Linked DNA regions of Homo sapiens: region 2 is linked to region 1. Evidence: fine-mapped expression QTL. A gene starts in region 1. The other region holds a variant in brackets. All regions are shown on one strand. Distances are between the middles of the regions. Region 1 holds the start of CCDC28A (coiled-coil domain containing 28A). Region 2 holds the start of LOC124900217 (collagen alpha-1(III) chain).

Region 1 (9,263 bases):
TGGCACCTGCCTGTAATCCCAGATATTCAGAAGGCTGAGGCACGAGAATCGCTTGAACTTGGGAGGCGGAGGTTGCAGTGAGCCAAGATTCTGCCACTGCACTCCAGCCTGGTGACAGAGTGAGACTCTGTCTCAAAAAAAAAAAAGTGTACAGCCTGGAGTAGACAAGAGATGGGGTTTCCCCCAACTCCCGGTCTGGTGCACTTTCCATGACACCATACCATGCTCCTCCATAAATGGTGGCTCCCAGCTCTTCACCACGTGGTTCTTCCTTTCACTATTAACAGTTCCCAAAAGGCTTGCTCATCTACAATAGCACAGCTCTGAAGGCCTTCAGTGCTGGATAGTTCAGATCCAGTCTCTTGGCACCCTTTTTAGAGGGTGTCTCAAGGAATCTTACCAAGTTTTATAATAGTAGTCATAGTACAGTATGGCTTTTGAAATAACTTATTTTTTCAGGTCTGAGCTGTAAAGCAAGCCTATATAACACCTCACTATGGCCCATTTCTCTTAACTGGCCTTCCTGTTTCCATTCTTCTATAGAATAATCTTTTAAAAATGTAACTTAGACCATGTCATGCCTTAAAACTCTCCAATGCCTATTGCTGTGCTTAGGGGAAAAAATACAGATTTCTTATATTGGTTTAAAAAACCCTTCCTGACCTGACCCTCTGGCAACCTTGGGGACTTCATCTCATACTACTTCTTGTCCCCCTGCACTCCAGACCACTACGCTGGCATTCTTTCAGTTCCGTGAACATGCCGAGCTCATTTCTGCTTTATGACTTCTTATCTTTTTTCTTAGCTGTTTCCTGAGCCAGACACGCAAAGAAGCATTAAGCAGTTACTATCTTGGCCAAGGCATTCCGGCATCAGGGGAAATGGAAGTGGAAGCACACTTAGAAAATGATGGATAGGCTTCTGGGTAAAAACAAACAAAAACAAGAAACAAACAAAAAACATCTCTTCCCTATAAGAACCACAAAGGACAATACAGGAATGACTGTGCTTCAGGCACTGAGAGTATCCATTTGCTTTGAGATACCTGCCTTCCCCTTTAGAGCAACAGTCCCCAATCTTTTTGGCACCAGGGACCAGTTTAGTGGAAAACAATCTTTCCATGGATGGGGCGGGGTGGGGGTTGGGGATGAAACTGAAACTGTTCCACCTGAGATCATCAGGCTTTCGTTAGATTCTCATAAGGACCACCGCCCACCTAGATCCCTTGCATGCGCAGTTCACATTAGGGCTCAGGCTCCTATGAGAATCTCATGCCACTGCTGATCTGACAGTAGGTGGGAGCTCAGGTGGTAATGCTCCCTCACTGGCTGCTCACCTCCTGCTGTGTGGCCCAGTTCCTAACAGGCCACGGACTAGTTCCAGTCTACAGCTGGAGGCTGGGGACTCCTGCTTTCATAGCGCCCTAACTTTCTGAAGGGAAAGGACAATGCATGTTTGTAGCTCAACTAATGAGGCTGTACAAGAGAGGCTTCCAAACCCATTCATCACCTGAGGACCTTACAGAAAGAGAGGTTCCTGACTCAAGTAAAATGTGAAAAAAGTTATGACACTTCTGATTCGAATGGAAACTTGAATACTTACTGAATATTTAATAACATTAATCATTCATTGCTGCTTAGGAATCATAAAGGCATTGTGGTGAAGTCTTTAAAAGTTTTAATCTTTTAGCAATCTATATTAAAATATTAGGGATTAAATTATATCTGAGATTTACTTCAACATAATACTAGAGACTGAAAAATGTCAGAAGAGGGGCTTTTTTTTTTTACAGGTTTCATCTGAATACATATTTATCAGATCAATATTACAGGTTATCACATTATCTACTACATACAGCTTTGCAAGACAGAAATCACAGTTTTCTGGCCAAGGTATGAAATGATTGCATTGTATATACAATGTACAAGGACAATGACAGTTTCTGGGTGATTTACTTCTAGCTGCACTTGTGGGTGTGTTTACGCGTGTCCATGTGAATCACCTGAGATTATGATATCAAAAATTTATAAGTATAAATTCGGTTATAATTTTCTTCTCAAATGCCTGTTTCTTTTCTTATCCTCATAGCACCCTAAAAAATAACATAACAAAAATTCCATTCCATAAAGGATCAGGGTCAACGTCACTGGTAACAGCTATAATCGACATCATTGGCCAGGGGTTAATGGCTGGATGAGGGATTCATTATAGTCTTCTGTCTTCCTCAGTATATGTTTGAAATTTTCCATAAGACAAATTTTTTTTAAATAGAGATTTCTGGGCCCCCAGCAGATTTTTCTCTCAATGGCTCTCCACTGCCACTACTAGGAAATTCGCCAGCAGTATTCCTCCTTACCTACCTATGCTATACAATGTATGAGTACTGGGAGGCAGGGGAAGGGTCTTGTTAATCAAAGCTCCCATCCTCTAAATATAATCCTCAGGAAGAAAGTATATGATTGGAGTAATTTATACAAGGTCTGCATTTAACAGTTAATCCAAAGAATGGATGCTTACAGTTTAAAGGAATTAAAGGAAAATCTAGAAAATCTGAAAGATCATTTCTCTCAGGGAGGAACTCTAGATTTTAGATTAAAGAAATCACACTTGAAACTGTACCTCTACAACAACTCTATCTTGCGTCACTCTGTCCCTAGCCCAGTACAATTCACCTCACTAACCCTCTGCTTCCTCAAACATGTTAAAGTTCATTTTGCCTAATGGCCTGCATTTTAGCCGTATGTTCTATTCAAGAATGCTTCTTTTCTTCTCCTTCTCCTTCTTATTTTTTTTTTATTTTTTTGAGACAGGGTCTCATTTTGTAACCCAGGCTGGAGCACAGTGACATGATCATGGCTAACTGCAGCCTTGACCTCCTGGGTTCAGGTGATCCTCCCACTTCAGCCACTCAAGCAGCTGGGACTACAGGCCTGCATCACCATGCCCAGCTAATTTTTGTATTTCTTGTAAAGACAGGGTTTTGCTATGTTGCCTAGGCTGGTCTCCAGCTCTTAGGTTCAAGCTATTTGTCTGCCTCAGCCTCCCAAAGTGCTGGATTACAGGCAAAAGCCACCGTGCCTGGCACTCAAGGACTCATTTTCCTCAGATCATTCCATGGCTGGCTCATGCACTTTATTCATATCTCTACCTCAAAGCTGCATTTTCGGGAAGGCCTTCCCTGATACTTCTCCTTCAGTACAAACTACTTTTGACCTTAAGCTGTTATTTCAGGACTCTCATCTGACTAAATGAAACTATTTTATTTGCATACTAATTTATTGTCAGTCTCTTATATCGGGAATATAAGATCTCTGACTATAAAGCTCTTGTACCTTTTGTTGATAGATGCATCCTGACCTCCTATCACAGGGTGTGGCTAAAATAGGGACTTAAAATAGGTATTCAAAACCTGAATACCTATTTCTGAATACCTGAAACATGTCCATTTAGAAGGGTACTTTCCTGTGTCCCTACATCATGTTGGAGGTTGTAAACACAAATGCTACAGGGCTCAGATGGGTACTAAAGACAAAGAAAAACTAGATATTACTTGAACTGAGGTAAAGGAGGCAGATGCTTTCCAGCTTGAACCATTGTTGCCAGGCTACAATGCACATCTAACGTAGTCAGATCTTCCCGTTAATTCATGGGATGCCACATTGTTTTTATTCTTTCAATTTTAGCTGTTAGCAACCAATTTGAAAAAAAAAAAAGTAGCATGTGAATCACCAGTTGCAAGCTCTGTTCATACAAATAAGACAATTCGACATTAATTAAAAGGAGAAACTGGGAAAAGATATTGAGCAGACTGTACAGTAGTGTTTGTAATGGTGAAAAATGGGAAACAACCTAAACATCCATCACTATGGGAATTCCCAAATAATTTGTGACAAATCTATTTGATAAAGTCTAGCTATATTTATCAATGTGGATAGCTCTCAAAAACACAGAATTTGGTGAAAAAATCAAGTTGCAGATCAATACACAAAATATAATAGCATTCATGTAAAACTTCAAATGCCCCAAACCATTCTACATATTGTTTATAATACATAGTAATAGTTTAAATATAGAAACCTAGATTGGCAAGATACATATCAAATTCATGATCCTGGTTGCCTCTCTGAGGGTGGTAGTAGAATGGGACTGAGAATAGGGAACACCTTCTTTATCTGTAATGCTCCATTTCTTTCATTCATAAATCTGTTCGTTCTGGATAGTGGGTGCGTTGTTTATTCTGTGCTTTTTTTTTTTAACATTTCAATAGTTTTGTTTTTTTTTTTTAAATGGCGGGTGGCGGAAGAACATCCTATCCTAGAAGCCAAGAGACTGGGGTTGTCTTTGCTCTGCCTTTTCTGGCATGGATACAATCTCTAGATATGGTTTCCCCATTAGCTAATGCGGGGGGTGCTATGTGGTGTTCCTCCAGAGTCCCTTCAATCTAAGGACCTGTGAATCTAAAACCTTCCCACCTCCCACTCCAACACCGGGAAGGCTACCCAGACCAGGCAATGAAACGTGCATTTCTTCCCTCATTTAAGATAGATCTCTTTCTCTCAGCCTGCAATTCCTTCTCCAGAGGCTTTAAGTATAGTGGAAGTAGAACTATCTTTGACGACAGAGAGACACCTGCATCAATTAGCCTTTCTGAGCCTCAAATTCCCCATTTGTAAAACAGAGAGTATAACACCTACCCATAAAATTGTAGAGAGGTTTAGATACACCGTTATGTGTAGGGCCCGAACAGAGTAGCTATTAATAGTGGTAACAGACTCTCAATTAGGGGCTCAACATCATGGTCGCTGAACAGAATCACGGTCGCTGAACAGAATCACACTCTTCACGCCGCCTTGGAGCCAAAATTAGTTTAGCCGCGAGAAGTCCGGGCAACCAATCGGAAACAACCAAGGAACAGTTGCATGGCGACACTCTGGTTCCGCCTTCGGGCATGCTCGAACAGCATTCTGGGAATTGTAGTTCGGGGGGGGAATCTAACACTCACCGAGGGGCGGAGTAGCTTCCGGAAAGGGTACTGCATTTCCCGTTTCTACCTCCACTGCACCCGCTTATTGCGTCTTGCTCCTGGGTCACAGAGCCTAAAACGACACACCCAACACGCCCGCCGGAGTTACAGCTAAAGGAAGGACAGGGGAAGCAATGAAATGCCGAGGGCGGAGCCAAGAGCGACACTGGGGGAGCAGGAAAAGGCGGGGCTTCCGCTTGGGGCATGGAGGCTGTACCTCTTACGTCACTTCCGTAAACAAACGGAGCTGCGGAGGAGCGGGTCCCGGGATGTGACCGGGGCTCTGCTTGTGGCTGCGGCGGTGGCTTCTGAGGCTGTCGGGTCTTTGCGGGTTGCGGAAGGGGGCCCCAATACCCTTCTTCTTCAGGTATGTAGTGGAAGCAAAGGAACCTCCGCAACCTGCCCCTTTAGGCCCTTCCCACCACTCTGGTCACTGCTGGGTACTGGGCGGTGAAGGGTCATCGCTTCGGTAGATTGGGGAAGGGGAATGAGGTGATGTCAAGAGGGATGCCCAGTGGTACTGCTTGGAGGCAAGACCTGGCACTTAAAACCACTGTGTGAATAAGTAACTATGAGCAGTTTACTTATTATGCCTTCTCTAAAACATTCTTTGCTGTTTGATATACAGGAAGGGTTTCAGTGCTCTTGTGACAGATGTAATTTTCCAAAAACGAGGAAATCGCGAGTGCTGGCTCCGCAGAATATTGTGGTTTAGACCACCACTGGTTTATTTGCATTGCTTTACTTCCTAGATTTTTTTTTCTTGTACCACCAAGTGTGTATTAGCATCGTTAAATTTCAGGCCAGCGTGTTTATGCGTATCATACATTTTTACAGATCCTTGCCTCTTCAGAGAACTAATCGTCTCTATTCAGTCATCTTTCAAACTCTCATTTAATTTGTGTTGCATGTTGAAACAACACCAGAATTATTGTTCTGTTACAAAAAATGCTTCTTAAAAGAAAAATTGTTAGCCAAGGTTTAAGTGGATTGACACCCAGTGGTATCTGGGATTAGAGACTGGGCATTGGAGCCTTTCCCAGAAAGCCTCTTCTTTGGCAGTATTGTAGCTCCAGTTGTAATTGTCTAGCGTCAGCCAATTTAAGCTCAGTGGTTTAAATTCCAGTGCCAGTGGCACTAAGTCCAGGCAAAAGGAAAAAGAAAAATTTATTGAATTCATCAAATAATTATTTTAAGCGACAGCAATGGGTTTGAATCTTTTTGAATGGTCATGGCATGCCTAAATTAAACACAGCATGCCAAAAACGGCCTAATGTTTCTAGAAGGCAATTTACAACCTGATGAGGTAGAGATAGCCATATAAATTCATCTTATGATATATGAAATAATGAAGTTAAGAAAAATTTAACACTATGCACAAATAAAGTATGGAAGGGGTTTTTTTGTTTTGTTTTGTTTTGTTTTGTTTTGTTTTTGAGACGGAGTCTCGCTCTGTCGCAGTGGCACCATCTCGGCTCAGGGCAAGCTCCGCCTCCCGGGTTCATGCCATTGTCCTGCCTCAGCCTCCTGAGTAGCTGGGACTACAGGCGCCCGCCACCACTCCCGGCTAATTTTTTGTATTTTTAGTAGAGACGGGGTTTCACCGTGTTAGCCAGGATGGTCTCGATCTCCTGACCTCGTGATCCGCCCGCCTTGGCCTTCCAAAGTGCTGGGATTACAGGCGTGAGCCCGGCCGGAAGGGTATTTTTTAAATAGATGGATGTTAGAAAATAGAGCGGATTAATAGATAAAGTAAGGGGATTGTGTAGGGATAACTAGGAGGCCTTACACGTATTCCGCATGGAAGGGCCATCTGTAACTTCACATTGTTAACTTTTTTGATATGGGCAAAACTAAATATATATCATAAAATTCACGTTTGTTTGGAAATGGTTAGAGAAAGTATATTCAAAATAGGCAACGAACAAGTTTGATTTTCTAGAACTTCACTTATCACCAAGCTAGAATCATTATTAGCCCTAGCTAGAAACTGAGTTTCTGTTTAGTAGTTGAAGTAAGGCTTCTAGTTGATTTTTAAAATGCTAGTAAAATCCCTATGACAATTATACATCTGTTTGAATCTACTTGGTTCTTCTTAAGCATACATTTTGGAAGAAAGACCTAAAGGCCACCTGAAGCTTGAATCAGGCTGGGAATATTATGTGGATCATTTGTTTATTGTTTATATGTTGTTCCCCTTGTAAAATGTAGGCTTCTTGAGGTCAAACACCTTGTTCAGTGCCGTCTCTCCAGTACCCACAATAGTGTCTGGCTTGTGGAAGAGAATCAGTAAATATTTGTAGGATGAAGAAATAAAGAAAATGGTAAAACAAAACAAAACAAAAACTGTCTACCAGACAATTTTGCTAGGGGCTTATGGGTACATAGTAGAGTACATTAAACTTAAGAGACCCATTTTCTAACTTTCTCTTATGCCCTCTGGAATTCTTGATCCTCTTTTGACCCTGTGAAATGGGTCTTTGAATTTCTTTCATGTTTGCATATTATAGCATACATATATAATTGCTGTATTCCTTATTTAGGTCTTAAGAAGCTGGCCGTGGTGCAATAAGGAACTTAAAACAATGGAAGAGCGGAAAGTGAAGAGGAGGAGTCCTAAGTCTTTTAGTGCCCACTGTACTCAGGTTGTCAATGCCAAAAAAAATGCCATTCCAGTGAGTAAAAGCACAGGGTTTTCAAATCCTGCATCACAGTCAACTTCACAGCGACCAAAGTTAAAAAGGTGAATTCTTTTATTTTACATGTTCACAGTAAAATGCCATTAAAGTAAATCCTGACTCAACTTCTTCTTAAACACTTTTTTAGTCTTGGCTTGACTTTTAAAACAGTTGAGGCACCCATTATGCGTGATTTAGAAGAAAAATTTATGAAAGTTACGGTGTATAGATATTAGAAAATGCAAAATGAATTATTGGTTTGAAGGCCCTTACTTTGTCTTATATTAAAATATACAAAACAAGAAAACTTTTTGACTGTGTTGATGAGCTAGTCAGAAATGGGAAAAGTGAAAAAGTGAAAGAAAGTCAGCAGGGTTTTTTGTTCTCTTTCTTTCTTTCTCTCTTTTTTCTCTAAGCTGAGTGTTTGTGCCTTGGTAGTTTTCTTAATTTATTTTATTTTACACACACACATATATATATATATTTTTAAATATGGGGTCTCACTGTGTTGCCCAGGCCGGCCTTGAACCTCTGGGCTCAAGGGATCCTCCTGCCTCAGTCTTCTGAGGGGCTGTGACTGTGTGGTGTGACACCACACCCAGCTTGCAGTTTTTATTTCTAAAAAATAATGGTGTCATTGTTTTTGTATAAACTGTGTTTTTTATAAATATTCAAACACAGGAAAAATTCAAAGAAGAAATTCAAAATGCAAAAATTCTACCACCTAGAAATAATCATTATTAATATTTGGTGAACATCATTTGCATTCAGGATATTTAAAGGAAACAGAAGTGACAAGTTTAACTATGTTATATGTTACTGTTACATATATGTGAGTATTTTATAGTATTAGATATTTGGAAGGGAAGATTATAGCTTTAGAGGAAAAAAAGTGTTGTATAATGTCAATCTTCTTTCTAATTATTAAATAAATTTACTCTCACATCCAATCTCACCCTGGCAAGTTAGCTAAGGAAATGCCTGTTGCATTCTGTAGCCGCTGGGTTTACACCTAATAAAAGATGAGATTACTGCCTTGATGATGATCTCTCTTTGTCGAAACAGAAGGGACATAACCAAAGACAAGAGAAGATTTGGAAGAAGTATTCCAATGAGTACCAAATGATAAACAGCAGTTTTGAGGATTTCCTTCGAATAAATTATCAGAATGGGGTTTTTGTCATGGAAGAGTTTAATTAGGGTCAGATTTTGAATAAGTTTACAGTTGGTGGAAAAAGAAAACGAAGAGATTTTAAAAGTAATCACTCCTTTCTCTATATTTTTAAAAGCAGTTTATTTGTATCATTGTCATTTTTATTGGTGGTTTTATTTCCATACCCTCTTGTAGATGTAGGCTTCTGAGGGCCAGGACTCTCTGGATCATCATTGTGTGCCTGACAGAACTTACAGTGGGGCTTTGCACATAGTATTATTTCACTGTGTGCTTGCTTTATTGTTGAATTATGTTAACATAAAGTGAGAGTGTGACATAACATTGAAGCAGGAATAAACAGGTTTTTGTTTTATCTTTTGTGTTTGTTTTCTGAGAGGGTTATTAAATG
Region 2 (9,460 bases), 84 kb before region 1:
GGGCAACAGAGTGAGACTCCGTCTCAGAAAAACAAACAAACAAACAAACAAACATGGGGGGCCTGTAAGCTCCTTTTCTCAGAGAGTTCCTCAGTCAAACACAGAAGCTCCAGCTCTTCTACCTTTGCCCAAAGTGCAGCTGAAGTGCACACTGTGACAAGTGCAGACCACAAATGAAACCGGCATGTGGAACAAGATGGCGGTCAGTACCCTCCTGCTGCATCTGAACTTCAGTTCCTGCAGAAGTCATTCATTCCAGGATAGAAACCAATTTGAGGAGAAACAGAATTAAGTAAGTTACTAGGGGCCTAGTTAGGTGCAAGTCATTTTATTTTATACTTATAACGATTTTTTTTTTCTTTTTACACCTTCACTGCTGGAAAAACTTGGTTTTTTAAACATAATAAAATGACTGCCAGAGGCAAATATTGCATTAGTTTTGTTTCTGAATTTTCTCCCCAAAATATTAAGAAACTCAAATGTTTCTCTTTTGTTAAATTTTTTCATTTGCTATTCTCGATTTTAAAATATATACAGCTAAAATGTTAATATTAGGGTTTTCTTTAATATAGCAGAAAACTAGATTACGGCTAGATAAATAATTTCAACCTAAATGTAGGTAGCTTTTTAAGCAGGTTATCATTTTCCCAATACCCAAGAGTCAATGAGGAGACTGATGTTTTGATTTAAAGGATATACTCTCATAATTCAAAAAATAACTCTCCTAGAAATCTGAATATTTGGCAAATGCATTTAAACATAATTCTCTTTCCATAATGACATTGCACTTTTTAAAGCTGAGGAGGAAGCTATGAATGTATTGTGGGCAGAATATACACAAATTAGAAACAAGTACCTGCCTGATCTGCTTGGCAAGTGACTAATCCCTCAACATGTGACGATCCACGCACTCTATGTGAATAAAATATTAGCTAAAAGAGCCCATACAGGCTGGGTGTGCTGGCTTACCCCTATAATCCCAGTACTTTGAGAGGCCAAGGTGGGAGGATTGCTTGAGGCCAGAGTTTGAGATGAGCCTAAGCAACACAGTGAGACATCAATTTCTGAAAATAAATAAATAAATAATTTTTTAATGTAAAGAGTCCATAGAGTCATGAAGAGTTTATTTCAGACACAAAGTTTTTTTTTTAATCCCTCATCAAAAGAATCAAAGAGATTATTTATCAAAGTTGTACTTACAAATTCATCTGAACTTGAACCCTGTCTGGATTCAAAGCCCAGCTCCATTGCTTACCAGCTATCAACATGGGCAAACAAATTATTTGTGCCTTAGCTATATCATCTGTCACACAGAAATAAGGGTATCCACTTCATATAGTATTATCAAATAGTCAAAATGAAACTCATAGAAGCAGAGAGTACAATGATGGTTACCAAGGGCTGTAGGAAGAAGGTATTGGAGAGATATTGGTCAAAAGATACAAAATTTCTGTTAAGAGGAATAAGTTCAAGAGATCTATAATCAACATGGTGACCATAGCTAATAACATGTATTGCATACTTGTAAGTGTTCTTACCAAAAAAAAAAGAGTATGTGAGATAATGCCTATATGTTAATTAGCTTGATTAACCCATGCCACAATATATAAACATCATGTTGGTGGGGCACAGTGGCTCACACCTGGAATCCTAGCATTTTGGGAGGCCAAAACGGGCAGATGCTTGAGCCCAGGAGTTTGAAACCAGCCTGGGCAACACAGTAAAACCCTGTCTCTATTAAAAATGTAAAAATTAGCCTGGCATGGTGGCATGTGCCTATAGTCCAGGCTACTAGCGAGGCTGAGGTGGGAGGATCATTTGAGCCATTGAACTCCAGCCTGGGCAACAGCCAGATCCTGTCTAAAAAAATAATAATAAAATAAAATAGTTGTTTCCCATAAATACATGCAACTTTAATTTTCCTATTTATTTTGTCAAAATAAATTAAAACTTTTTAAATCCCTCAGTAGAATCACAAAACGCCAAAATTGGAAAGGCCAGTAGAGATTATTTTTGTCAAGGTCTCTGTTTACAGATATGAAAACTAAGGCCTTGAGGTGTTGAATAAATTGCTCAAAATCTGTGTTAGAAAATGGCAGAGGTGAAGCCAAGCTCAGGTCTCCCAATTCCTAATCCAATGAGCTTTCTAGACGATTGCAGTGCTTCTCAATTTGCCTGGCCAAAGGACAGCATGGCATTGTTAAACATACTGGAGACTCTGGCTCAACAGGGCTTTGGAAGGGTCTGGGAATCTCTAATTTTAACGAAAGTTCCAAGCAGTTCTTAAAGTTAGTCAAGTATAGGAATCACCTCGCCTCCTTAACCTGATGGTGCAATCTGACCACTCAGCTACTGTCAGTTTCTCTTAATAAATTGAGGGACTGGGATTAGAGGGGGGTGCGGGCCACACAGCCACCAACATCCTCTCTAGCATGTGGTATGTGTCAATGAAAGCAAATCTTATGCCAATTTCGCCAAACATTTATGAGTAGTCAGACACAAAAACAGCCATACAACCTATTCTTATGCAGTCAGTCAGACACGGTGGCTCACACCAGTAATCCCAGCTCTTTTGGGAGGCCAAGGAGGGAGGATCGCTTGAGCCCAGGAGTTCCAGACCAGCCTGCACAACGTATGGAAACCTCATCTCTTTTTAAATTAAAAAAAAAAAAAGAAGAAGAAGACGAAGTGCAGTGAACACTCTGTCTTTAGAACTCTGACAAGTGCCTTGCGTTCTGAGGAAGAAGCAAAGATATTCTGACATCAGGACCAGCCAACCCTCTGGTTAGGTGAGGGGACAGTCTGTTGTGAGGTATGAGAATGCATCTCAACACCTAAAATACTCCTCAGAACTATGAGCCTACTGTGTCTGCCAAATTCTCAGTCCTGTTTATGCAAAGACTGTATTTGCAAATGTACAATGTTAAATATGTACAATTATTATGTATCAATTAAAAAGTAATAAGTGTGTATAATATAACCTGGCCTTCCCTCCTATCTCACAAGGTTTTTCATCAAGTAATAAATATGAATGATACTTTTTCAATCATAAAAGTCTTAATTATAAAAAGAAACAAATTATGAACTTCGAAAAGTTCACTGTGCTAAGTAAAAAAAGCCAGGCACATGATTCCATCTGTATGAAATGTCCAGAAAAGTCAAATCTATAGAGGCAGAAAGTAGATCAGTGGTTGCCTAGGAATGGGAGGGTTGACAGGAAATGGGGAATAACTAGTTATGAGTATGGGGTTTCTTTTGGGGTGATAAAAATGTTCTAAAATTGTGGTAATGGTTGCACAACTCTGTGAATACACTAAAAACCCCTAAATTGTACACTTTTTTTTTTTGGGGACACAGAGTCTTGCTCTATCTCCCAGGCTGGGGTGCAGTGGCGCCATCTCGGGTCACTACAATATCCACCTCCTGGGTTCAAGTCATTCTCATGCCTCAGCCTCCCAAGTAGCTGAGATTACAGGCATGTGCCCCTATGCCCAGCTAATTTTTGTATTTTTAGTAGAGACAGAGTTTCGCCATGTTGGCCAGGCTGGTCTCGAACTCCTGGCCTCAAGTGATCGGCCCACCTTGGCCTCCCAAAGTACTGTAATTACAGGTGTGAGCCACTCCACCCGGCCAAACAGTATGCTTTAAGTGGGTGAATTGTATGGTGTGTAAATTTTATTTCAACAAAACTATTTTTAAAGAGAAAGAAAACCCAATCACACAGGGCTTAAAAATAAAAACAGGGGCCAGGCACAGTGGCTCACGCCTGTAATCTCAGCACT[T/C]TGGGAGGCCGAGGCGGGTGGATCACGAGGTCAGGAGTTCAAGACCAGCCTGGTCAAGATGGTGAAACCCCATCTCTACTAAAAATACAAAAATTAGCCAGGCATGGTGGTGGGCATCTGTAATCCCAGCTACTCAGGAGGATGAGGCAGGGAATTGCTTGAACCCGGGAGGCAGAGGTTGCAGTGAGCTGAGATCACGCCACTGCACTCCATCCTGGGCGACAGAGTAAGGCTCCATCTCAAAAAAATTAAAATAAAAATAAAAAAATAGAAACAGACTATTTGATCGAGTGTCTATTGATTTCTGCTTAGCAAAGTCTGTTTTGATATTTACAGAGCCAAGATGTAACTATTCACATTGCTGGCTGTTGTCACTATTTTCCATGAGAACTTACTGTGTCAGCAAAATTAATGAAGTCTGACTTTTACAGACAGGAGCAGAGATTGGTGGTTAAGCACTAAACATTAAAGGCAGAAAGTTTACATTTTTATTTTTGTAAAGTAATTGTCTCGATCACTTACATTGGTAGCAGTATTGTATTTTTAGTATTGTATTTTTGTACTTGTACTTAGTATTGTATTTAGTACTGTATTTTTAGTAGGGACGGGGTTTCAACATATTGGCCAGGCTAGTCTTGAGCTCCTGGCCTCAACTGATCCACCTGCCTCAAAAGATCCATCCTCCTTCCTCCCTAAGGTTTTTATAGTTATTCTTCCTGACAGTAAGCACTAAGTCACTAAGTATTAATTCAATTCAAACATCTATTGAGCTATCACATCCAGGCATTGTTCTAAGCTCTAGAAAAACAAAGACTCGGCCATCCTGGACCTCAAAGGTCCTGCTGTCTGGCAGAGGGGTGCAGAAGTCCCCTTGGTAAATGTGGTGATCGAGGTGAACCAATGCCATGGGAACAGCCCCTCAACCTGGGGGTGTCAGGGAAAGAAAGTAGGAGTCTTCAATGAACAGAATAATAACATGCATTCTCCCCAAGGCATGACAAAAAATTATTTTGGATAACTTTCTACCCATGAGATTTTGAGGAATGGCAAACTTGATGAAATACCTCTCAGGATCATTGAGGCCAGCAGGGCCAGCCCACAGGACTAAAATACTGTCTCTGTATTGCAAAGAGTGTTTATACATTTTTTTAAATTGTTCCACTGACATTCTCACATCCTTTCTTATGGTAGAAAGCTATTATTGGTCACTGAAATATGCTGTCCCCAACTGCTAGAGGCTTTTGGTAAACTGCTGGATTCTGTTAATTGCTCCTGGGGAGACTCATTAAATGGTTTATCTGACAAGAAGGGTGGAATTAACGGTCACAGTTATCCTTAGGACTGTTTAAGGAACATATCTAAACTTTGCTCCCCATTTCCACACCTTTTTTTTTTTTGAGACAGTCTCGCTAATTTTTGTATTTTTGGTAGAGACGGGGTTTCGCCATGTTGGCCAGGCTGATCTTGAACTCCTAGCCTCAAATGATCCGCCCACCTTGGTCTCCCAAAGTGCTGGGATTACAGGCATGAGCCACTGTGCCTGGCTCCACACTCTTCTAAAGGGAAGGAACACAGGCAGTGGGACGACAGGCGAGACAATCAGAAGGTTTGGGCTTCAGGCCCGGATGTGTCATTACCCACAGCCTAACCTGGGGTGAATTAACTGCAATGCTGTTGGACTGGATTTCCTCTCTGGGTAAGAATTCACGAAATGGATGGCCTTTACGGTCAATTCCAAGTCTAAAAGTCTAGCCATCCATACTAATGGAGTATGATATTCTGAAGACCTGCCTAAAATGGCAGAACAACTTCAAACTGTAGTTTTTACACAGAAACAAGGTTTGAGGCATTGTTTTAAAAGAATCCTAACAGATGGTAATGCATAGGCATTTCACTGCTTTTAAGCACATAAAAAAGCAAAGTGTGTGAAGGTGAAAGAAACCACAAAAATTAATGTCTTGATAGTCAGCTTTCTTCTCTACATGTACATTTATACTCAGGCATAATTATATTCAATAAAAAGCCTTCTTGCATGATTATTAAAAAAAAAAAAATGGGGCCACGTGTGGTAGCTCACACCTGTAATCCCAGCACTTTGGGAGGTCGAGGCAGGTGGATCGCCTGAGGTTGGGAGTTAAAGACCAGCCTGACAAACATGGCGAAACCCTGTCTCTACTAAAAATACAAAAATTAGCCGGGCGTGGTGGCGGGCGCCTGTAATCCCAGGTACTCTAGAGGCTGAGGCAGGAGGATTGCTTGAACCCAGGAGGCGGAGGGTGCAGTGAGCTGAGATTGCACCACAGCACTCCAGCCTGGAAGACAGGTATGAAATCACAACCACTTAAGATTCAAACAAACTTGTGAAAAGTTTTGAAAAGAGTTATTTCAGTTACTGTAATTAGAACAACCTTAGTTAATATGGAGAATTTGGGGGATTTCTGGCTATGGACAGTAGCCTATTGGGGCATATGTACTAAAGAACAGAGAAAAGTGATACATTTAAATGTAAAACCAAACTAGTAAAGGAAGGAGTTCTTGACCTTCAGGGAGTTTCCTCTTGTTTTTTAATTCCCACAATAGATCAGTTCACCTATCAATCAGATCTCCCTCATCACATTCTTTGTCAAGGGTAAAATTCTGGTTCTCCCACGTACCTACACCCTAGACAGAAAACGCATAGAAGCAACTCGTGATTGCCGCATAGACCATGACATCCTACTAGGACAGTGTATCCTACCATATGCATGAAGTCATCACTCACATTAAGTAGATATATTCTGATTATGTCAACAACCTTATGAGATCACTTTGATTCCTCCCCACTGATTTTTTTTTCTTGGAGGGGGACGCTCTCCCAGGTTGGGAACTGTCCACAATTCATATGAATGTGTTGACGGCACAATCAAAGAGATGAACGCAAAAATGTAAAACTGCCACGAATTAATTATACAACTTGGAGAAAGATGTATTATAGCAAGCAATCTCACTGAAATTAAATAATTGAAAATTTTGAACTCTTAGGCTGTAAGGTAGTTAAAATATAGCTAAGTTTTTCTAGCTAGCTGGAAAACGAGCTATTCGAGATTGCATATGAAGTGATTCTAGGAGAAAAAACTATTTCATCCAGAGCTGCTGAAATCTAGGCGTGTGTTACATCAACATCTCCCCTCCCACCCAGCAATCCATCAACCATCTCCAATTTATTCTTTACACTTAGGATTATGACCAAGTTCACGTACTTAAAAGGGAGAAACCACAGAGACATCACACTGAAAGTTTCTCTGCTTTGGGCCAGCAGGAAATTCCAGTTGCTTCATTCACCGGAGCCAGTTAAGCTGCTGAAATGAAATGGATCACCGGAGAGATCACTATATCAGGACATAGACTTGACTTTCAGGGTTGGAGGAAGCCGGACAAAGATGAATGGGATTCAGAGCCTGAACTCAAGGTCAACGTCTTCTGAATCACAAAGAGCTGGTGGGTCAGTCTGGGAGAAGAAAGAAAATTCTGCGCCAAATGGGAAAACCCTTAAAGTCTGCATAGTTTTGCTTGTCGGTAAGAACACAGGTAGGCGGCGGGAAGAGAGGTGGCAAGCAGCCCCAACGCTCGCCGAGATCCCCAGGGTTTTACAAACGGATCGTCCTGAAGTCTCCAAAACTGTAACTACTATATGCCCAAATTTATATTCTCCCCTGGCTTTTCCAACAGGCTACCTGCCTGTGACAGTTTTCCCACGAACTTGGCTCTCCTCTGTCTACAGCGCCCCGGGGTCTCCCAAACAGACAGACACAGACAGACAGAAGGAGCAGACAAGGGGACTGTCCAATTCCCACCCTCCGCGCCCACTCTCTCGAGGTAGCCAAGACCCTCCAGGAGTCCGAAAGTCACAGAGCGCTCTGCGCCCCTGCCACCTGCCCAGCCTCCCGCTGGGGTCCGGCAGTCCCCACTGGAGACCCCGACATCGCGGGGCTCCGCGGCCCCCGCGCCGACCCAGGGCCGCCAGGGGGCGGGCGGGAGCAGCTCTCCGGGTGCCTCCCCCGCCGGTTCCCCTCCCCCGGCCCGCCGGCCACTCACGGATTTTCACTCGGCGGTGGTCCAGGCGCGCAGCGGCGGCTTGCAGGGCGTCGAGGCGGCGGTGCAGCGCGGCGGTGCGGTGGCCCAGCGCGGCCGCCTGGCCCTCGAGCTCGCCGAAGATGTCCCCGGCGCAGCGCGACAGGTCGGCCAGCTGCGCCAGCAGGCAGCCCAGGGCATGCGAGCTGACCTGCTCCAGCGAGCGGAAGAGTGGCGCGCCCGCAGCCCCGGCCCCCGCCGCCTCGGGCCGGCGCAGCCGCGCGGGCTCCAGGGTCCTCTGGTGGAAGGGCATGGCGGGGGCGGGCCGGCGGCGCGGGATCCCTCAGTCTGCCTCCCGTCGGCGCGGGGCGCCAGCCTGCATCCAACACAAAGGAAGTCCCGGGCAGCGGCGGGGCGCCGAGGGAAGCCTGGCGGCCCCTGCCCGCAGGGGAGAGGCCGGGCGGGCAGGAAGGACGGACGGACGGACGGGCGCGCGGGCGAGCGGGCACCCGGGCGGCGCGGGGCAGGAATGGGGTCCGAGCCGTGGCTGCCTGGCGCCCGGCGGCGTTCCTCCACCCGCAGGGCTTCGCGGGCCGCGCGGCGAGAGGAAGTTCCAGGGGCAGCTCTGGGCGGCGGCGGCCGCGGCGGCGAGGGGAGCCGCGAGTCCCGCTGAAGTTTGCAGGCGGGCAGGAAAGCGCCGGCTGCTCCTTCCCTCCCTCCGGATTGGAGAGGGAGGAGGAAGCGAGGGAAGTGCCGCCGACACCGGGCGAGAGGGAGGGGAGGCGAAAGAAAGGAAAGGGGGAGGAGAAAAGGGCCGGCCCGGGAACCACCTGCGGCTCCCGCGGCTGCCGCGCCCAGCGCCCGCAGCCAGTGGCGGCCCCGGCGCCTCAGCGCACCCTGTCGGGGCGGGTGCGGGCGCACAGTCCCGGGACGCCCACGTCGCCGCCCCAACTCCCCTTGGCAGCCCCCGGGCGGTGGGGCAGAGCCCTCGCCCGCCCCCCGGGCCGGGGTGCAGCGCAGTGCGGGCGCCGGGAGGGCGGAGGCGCCAGGACGGCCGCGGCCAGCTCCGCTCGCTCTGCTCACCTGCGCCCCTGCCCACGGCGCTCCGCAGTCAGGAGCGCCCCGCCCCGCGGGGAACGCCCCGGGCCCCTCGGGGTCCCCCTGCTCTCTCCTACTTCCCTTCTGGAAGGTGGCCAACACTTCTGGGCCGCCCGGGTGGACCTCAAATAGAACGTCTTTAAATGTCCGGTGGCCAAGGGTTCTGTAGCCGACTAGGAGTCAGCGTCCGACTCGGAACAACTCAAGACCTCTTTTCAGGGGGCGTCCAGTGAGTTTTTTTCAGCAAGGTGACTCCCCCTGTGGCTGCCTGCTACTACAGCTGGAAAGGTCCAAGCTGAAATGTGACTAATCTGAGTTTCTTCCACCAAGCATGTTAGTTAGGGGTGGAGGACTAGAACCTAGAACCCTGAATTCGAGCCTGGAAGATATGTAAGCCACATGCTATTGAGATCGTGGTCATGGGACACCCGCTAACACAAACCTTCTGGTAGGAAGTTTTTGAGAAGACTGGGTCCAATATCCCCAAGCTAAAATCCCACTGGCCCATCGCTGTGTTTGCTCAGAAAAGG

What was found.
Region 2: its variant is fine-mapped to the expression of CCDC28A in whole blood (TOPMed, PIP above 0.99).

Annotation. Positions count from the first base shown.
Region 1 is chr6:138,768,513-138,777,775 of GRCh38, forward strand. CCDC28A (coiled-coil domain containing 28A) reads left to right here and starts at 5,257. Exons shown (of 6, transcript NM_015439.3): 1 at 5,257-5,390; 2 at 7,567-7,766. The coding sequence starts at 7,609. CCDC28A-AS1 (CCDC28A antisense RNA 1) reads right to left here and starts at 5,191. Exons shown (of 3, transcript NR_161205.1): 1 at 5,003-5,191. RefSeq lists enhancers at 4,308-4,982, 4,983-5,656, 5,020-5,069, 5,090-5,149, 5,510-5,569 and 1 more.
Region 2 is chr6:138,684,620-138,694,079 of GRCh38, forward strand. It overlaps LOC124900217 (collagen alpha-1(III) chain), which reads left to right and starts at 8,107. Exons shown (of 2, transcript XM_047419637.1): 1 at 8,107-9,460. The coding sequence starts at 8,144. The coding sequence ends at 9,073. NHSL1-AS1 (NHSL1 antisense RNA 1) reads left to right here and starts at 7,049. Exons shown (of 4, transcript NR_033896.1): 1 at 7,049-7,349. It also overlaps a transcript of NHSL1 not described here. RefSeq lists an enhancer at 6,444-7,643 and silencers at 7,766-7,815, 7,826-8,175, 8,656-8,715, 8,756-8,895. The variant T/C (reference allele first, on the strand shown) is at 3,783.